2 separate regions of the Homo sapiens genome follow, and region 1 is linked to region 2. A link means that fine-mapping ties the variant in region 2 to the expression of a gene that starts in the linked region. Tissue or cell type: tibial nerve. Region 2 holds a variant in brackets; the other region holds the start of a gene. All regions are shown on one strand. Distances are from middle to middle.

Region 1 (2,900 bases), 28 kb before region 2:
CCCAAAGTGCTGGGTTTAAAGGTGTGAGGCACCACGTCTGCCCTATTCTCATTATTGAATCTATAAAGTTCTTGGCATGGGCTCTGTCTCAGGGAGCAGTGCAGGGCTAAGTCCAGAATCCAGGTCTCCTCACCCAAGCCCTGGCTCTCAACTACCCCTCAGGGGTCTCTGCCCTCCTGTGGAAGAGAAGTTCCAGTTCCATGACAGGCAACTTGTCAGGATAAGCATCCAGAAACTGACCCGCCATCAGTGGCACTTTGACAACTGTCTTCTTAATTCAAGGTTCACTTAGCATAGGTCTCATAACTGCTTTGCTCAGAGCTGGCCTGCTGGCCTGCAGTTTAAAGAGAAAGGATGCTATGGCCAGGATCCTCAGTGTCACAAGAGAGGAAGTCAGGGAATCACAGAACCTTACAGCCAGAACAGACCCTGGAGAGCGGGAGGTCTGCTCTCCTTTCAGAAAGAGAAGCTAAGGCCCAGAGCAGGGAAGTGGCTTGTCCAGGGTCACACAGCTGAGCAAAGTGACAAACCTGGACCAGGAGCCAGCCTTCAGGTCAGCAGTCTGGTGCTCTTCCCACCTCAACCTGCTCTCCTCTTTCTTAAAGAAAAAGAAAGAGAAGGTGTTTCAGTAGTGAGTGTGGGATAGCCACCCACTTCACCATGGTTTGGAAGCATCTCTCCATCCCTCCTCTCACTCAACAGCTGTGGCAGAACAGTCAGGGCCTGCCTGACCTCTTGAGTTTTATTGTCTCCTCTCAACTTGGGCTTAAAGGGACTTTATTAACCATGACTAATACCAGAGGATCCAAAGCTGCACCCACTTGTTAATTTTGAGGAATTTTTAAATGCGGGATTTAAAAAAGATTTAATTTCACGCATAGGTATGAACAGCCCCTCATCATCCCAGGTAGAGGATGAACAACTCATCATCCCGGGTAGAGGCAGGTAAGTGTGTCCAGCGTCCCTCAGGGAATGCTCTTCTGATGCCAAACCCTCTGCTTCCGCGGGGTCACTTCTCGGGTGGTTTTGTTTCTCCTCTGCTTCCACAGTTGCAAACCCTCGAAGTGCCACGACCCCTGGGGAAACTCGATCTTAAGTCCCATGGCCAAACGCTCCAGCCCGCGGGGCTCTCAGGACACCACAGCGATCGGATTTCGCGTGGCCGCCAGGCTCCCCCTACTCCTGTCCCCTCCCGCCAGAGAACCCCTGGAGCCAATCAGAGCGTCGCGGAGCCCGGGGTTGTAGAGTCCCGAGCCCGGGACCCGCCCCTCTTTGTTGCGGTGGCCAATAGACGCATTCGGAACATCGGCGGCTGCCCGGGTGACTTGGTTATATGTCACAGAATAACATTCGAGAATGGGACATGGAATGAGGCGACGGCCCCAGCAAGCCCCAGCAGCCCCAGCCCCAGCCCCAGGCCCAGCAGCAGCAGCAGCAGCCCCTGCTCTCCCGCCGCCCGGAGAGGCTCTGCAGCCATGAAGCCAACCGTCCCGAGGTAGGATCTTGGAGCTGCCGCGCGCCCTTCCTGCGCGCCGCCCGCCTGCAGCCAGTCCCTCCCGGTGATAGGCGCTGGAACTCGGGGAAAAGGGGGCGGATGGAGCTCTTTCCACTAGATCCCCGCCGGGGTCCGGGAGGGCTTCCTGGAAGAAAGCGGGCCGCCTTGCAAGCCAAGGCTGCTGCAGCGCCCTCGCGCCAGCTCTGGGCGCTCACATGCCAGCACGTTCGTGGCTCCCCTCCTCTCTTGGCCACATCTGAGGACCCAGGAATGTGTGGAGCCTTGCGGGAACCTCCTGTTCCTTCATGCTACACAAGCTGTCTTTCTTCTCCCCACATCTTGCGCTCCGCATCCCCCAAGCTCCTTGTGCCCCTCCATCCCCAACCCCCCGGGTTTAGGTGTGTGTGAAGCTTCGTGGCACATTTTGAGCTGCCTTTCTAGGTAATCGCAGGGCTGGAAGCCCGTCATCGATTCTCAGGGAGGCTGTCAGCGTGCAGGGGGGAGCGGGGAGTGTCGTGGAGACACTCCGGGACCCCTCACTCGGTTCCGCTGTGCGTCCACTTAGCTGTGGTGTCAGCTGTGTCTCCGCTGATTTCAGGCACCGCCGGTAAGCAGGGAGCCTCCGCGGAGCTCCCGCCGCCGCTCCCCCTTGGTGAGTCCTGCCGCAGCGAGAGGCATGGAGAAGGCCGCCCCCGCGGGGCGCTGATCCCCTCGCCGCGCCCGCGCGCACACGCCCCCCGCCGCCGCCGCCGCTGCCGCCGCCGCGCGCCCCCAGTACCTCGCTCCCCGCCCAGGCCCCACCATGACCGGCTCCGCGGCCGACACTCACCGCTGCCCCCACCCCAAAGGCGCCAAAGGCACCCGGTCCCGGAGCAGCCACGCGCGGCCCGTGAGCCTCGCCACCAGCGGGGGCTCAGAGGAGGAGGACAAAGACGGCGGGGTGCTGTTCCACGTCAACAAGAGCGGCTTCCCCATCGACAGCCACACCTGGGAGCGCATGTGGATGCACGTGGCCAAGGTGCACCCTAAGGGGGGAGAAATGGTGGGCGCCATCAGGAACGCCGCCTTCTTGGCAAAGGTCAGTGGCTTCCAGGGCGGAGTTGGGGGGCTGGGGGTAGGTAGGCAGCGATGGGACCGTTTCAGCCTATACATAGCAAACACAGGCAATCTCCATTTTCCTAGTCCTGCTACAAACTCCCTTCCTCTCCCCATTCCTTCCTGCCAGCCCTTTTCTAATTGAGATATTTAGATTGGAAGCCTAAGAAATGGGGAAGGGAGAGGTAGCGGGCTTGCTATCCTGGGACTGTGTAATTGGATTGTGCCAAGGTGTCTTTGAAGCTCCAGCCAAACTCTATTATTTACTCACCCCCACATACATCCTCCTTCAGCAAAAGCTAGAGCCACC
Region 2 (2,900 bases):
GTCGACCCCAGCCCCACTGGGGGAAGCACAGGAGCACAGAGGTGATGGCTCAGGGCTCAGCAGTGAAAACATAAGCTTTTCAAAAACGATGAGAAGTGGCCGCAACAAGGTGAGGAGGGGTGGGTTTCAAGGGGGAGGAGGGAAAGTAGTGGGGGAAGGAGAAGCACTATGCACTGAGGTGACATTTAGAGAGGCAGTGTTGAGAGGGCTGAGGGGCTGGAACCAGCCTGCGAAAGGGAGTGAGAGTGAGAGCTGATGGAGCTGATGCAGGCCAGATTCCTTTATCAAGAAGGAGCCCTGAACAGAGATGCAGCAACCTGATTTCTCACTCCAACTCTGCCATGAACCAGCTTGCGGCTTTGAGCAAGCTGCTTCTCTGTGCCTCACCTGTGTAAGGGGACGGGGGACTTAGAGCAGATTATTCTAGGTAGTTTGTAAACTCTATAGAGTTCTCCTGGGGCTTTTGTCTTTCTAGAATTGGAAGAGACCAGAGTGTCTTTGGACACACGGAGAAAATAACCAGGAGAAAGAAATGAGTGTTCAAGAGCAAAGGGATTAATGGAGGAAGATATATGAGCAGCTGGGGTCACATGGTATGGAAGGCTACAGAGAGGGCTTAGAAGGTGGTGGGTGGGGGAGAGGGTAGGGCAAAGGAAGGGGGGACATTAGGGAGAGCTTGACATACATGAGGAGGTAGAAGTTGAAGGACTGTACCTTAAGTGGCCTTTATCCTGCCAGTGAAGGAGTTGAAGAAAGGGCCCAGCTGAGGACAGATAGATAGGCCCTGCAGTCCTGTTCTCAACTCTGAGTGTGCACCAGCATCACCTGGAGGGTTTGTTGAAACAGAAGACTGCTGGACCCCTTTCCCAGAGCTTCTGATTCAGCACATATGGGATGGAGCCTGAGAACTGGTGTTTCTAATGATGCTGATCCTGCTGGTCCGGGGACCACACTTTGACATCTACCGTTTGCTTCAGCCGCAGGCCTCCACCTGTGTTTGATGAATCAGAATGGGAAAACTGAGTTGGCGGTTGACCCTGAAAAATAACAGTCACTGGCTAAAAGTACTGGGTCTGCTGAGAGGGGCAGATAAAGCCGTTGGGTGTGATTTAGGGGCTCAGCCTTGTCCAGTGTTGCCTGGATCTCTGGATAATGAGGTTGTGGAGGTGAAGTTAGGGGGTCTGACCCTGCACTGGCTCCCATGTTTGGGCCCCAGTGAAGTCATTCTGGGAGGGGCCCAACTGGTCACTCTCCTGGGGGCCAGACTGGGCCTCCGGTCCTTCATCCCCTAGGCCATGCCCATACGCTAATCTCTGACTACTTT[T/G]TCATGCAGCCAAGGCAAGTGACCACCCCTGCGCCTGCAGAGGACAGCTGTTAGACTGCCTCAGTTGTGAGTGAAAGCTATCTACTCTCCCGCTCCCCTCCTACCCTGCCAGCACATCAGAGTGGGCCTGGGAATGGGGAGAAAGACTGGGGAAGGGAGTGGTCGGTCACTCGAGGTCAGGAAGGAAGACCTGCAGGAAGAGGGGAATTCTCTTCCATCACCCTCCTCCCTCCACGCCCCAAAGTCGATCCCAGCCCCAGTGGGGAAAGCCCCAGGAGCACGGAGGTGATGGCTGATGGTTCAGTGAAATCATCAACTTTTCAAAAAAGGTGAAGAGTGATTGCCACCTGCCTCAGAATCCCCCTGACTCACGCCCCTGCCCTCGAGCCCTTCCTCCCAGGTAAACATTGATTCCCAAAAGTCCTCCTTCCTAAACTGCTCCCAGTAGGTCAGAGTCTTTGCGGTTTTTTTTCCCCACAACTAGGGCCGAGTGGCCTTGGAACGGTTTGACCATCCACAGAGCCCAGTTGGCTTGTAGGTGCCCGTGGACAATTTTGTATTAGCAAATCCAGTAAGACTATGGTTATTCTTGGTGGCGGAAACCCTTGCCACTTCTTTTCTCTTTCTCCAGCACTTGGAGGTTGGGAGGGAACTCTGGAGGGCAGATCTCTCAGCTGAAGTTTCAAATGGATTGAGGTGTTTGAGGAGGGAAGATTCTCTCCCTAATTCCTCCGAAACCTTGACTTCTGAGTTGCAGGGCTGGGGAAGAGATTGCAGGGTCTACTGTGTAGGAGGAGAGGGAAGAGAGGTGCAGGACATGAGAATAAGAAGAAGAGCTGTGAGAGGCCACAAGCACTGGAGCGCCAAGCCCCAGCTTCCCTCTCTAGATTCCAGCTCCCGCCATTCTGCCACACTAGAACTCAGGACAGCTGTGTTCCTGGAGGTATGTTTGGAGAGAAGCAGCTTCTCAGCTTCCACCCATGGCCTTCGCCAAGCAGCCTTTTCTCTAGGTAATCTTGCTTTTGGCGAGGAAATGAGAAAGTGACAAATATGGTCTTGACCCAATCACTCCACAAACTCCGGGAATCTTACTGTAAGATGGCCAGGACTAGGGTTTGGTGACTCTGTCCCTGTGCTATTCTGTCAGCATTACATAAGGCCATCGCGTCATTTCTAAATGTGTTGGGTGTCATGAGGAAGCTTGGGAGGGGCCCAAAGGGTGGAAAATTACCATAACAGGCGAGAGGCCCATCAGCTGTGGGGTCCCAGTCCCTGTCTGCCATGGATAATTTTAGTGGCATTATATCCCCATCCACCTCCTCCCTCCAGCTGGAGCGACTTCCAGCCTTGAATTCCTCTCCATTTTTGCACTTGTCTAAATAATCCCTTTCGAGAGGAGGATCAGTGTCACTGGGTTGACAAGAATCAGCCGAGGGGGAGGGCAGGTGAAGATGACTGCGTAGCATCCGCTGAGACCAAGTTTCAAGAGGGAAACCAGGACTCCCCCACCCTTCCACCCACGGGTCCTTTCTCACACTGCTCCTCTGGGAGTGTGTAAAGCACCTACTACACTGAA

Which allele goes with the higher level. Positions count from the first base shown, and alleles are read on the strand shown. Sizes are in standard deviations (SD) of each study's normalised expression.
For the expression in tibial nerve of the gene that starts at base 1,296 in region 1, allele G in region 2 goes with a lower level than allele T (small effect, 0.33 SD a copy in GTEx).

What was found.
Region 1: it holds the start of VASH2, and the variant in region 2 is fine-mapped to the expression of VASH2 in tibial nerve (GTEx, PIP 0.91).

The regions. Positions count from the first base shown.
Region 1 is chr1:212,949,246-212,952,145 of GRCh38, forward strand. VASH2 (vasohibin 2) reads left to right here and starts at 1,296. Exons shown (of 8, transcript NM_001301056.2): 1 at 1,296-1,495; 2 at 2,094-2,573. The coding sequence starts at 2,298. RefSeq lists enhancers at 1,282-1,431, 1,952-2,001.
Region 2 is chr1:212,976,914-212,979,813 of GRCh38, forward strand. All of the region lies in intron 7 of VASH2 (vasohibin 2), which reads left to right. Among named protein-coding and RNA genes, the nearest start is that of VASH2, 28 kb to the left of the region's middle. RefSeq lists an enhancer at 2,717-2,766. The variant T/G (reference allele first, on the strand shown) is at 1,325.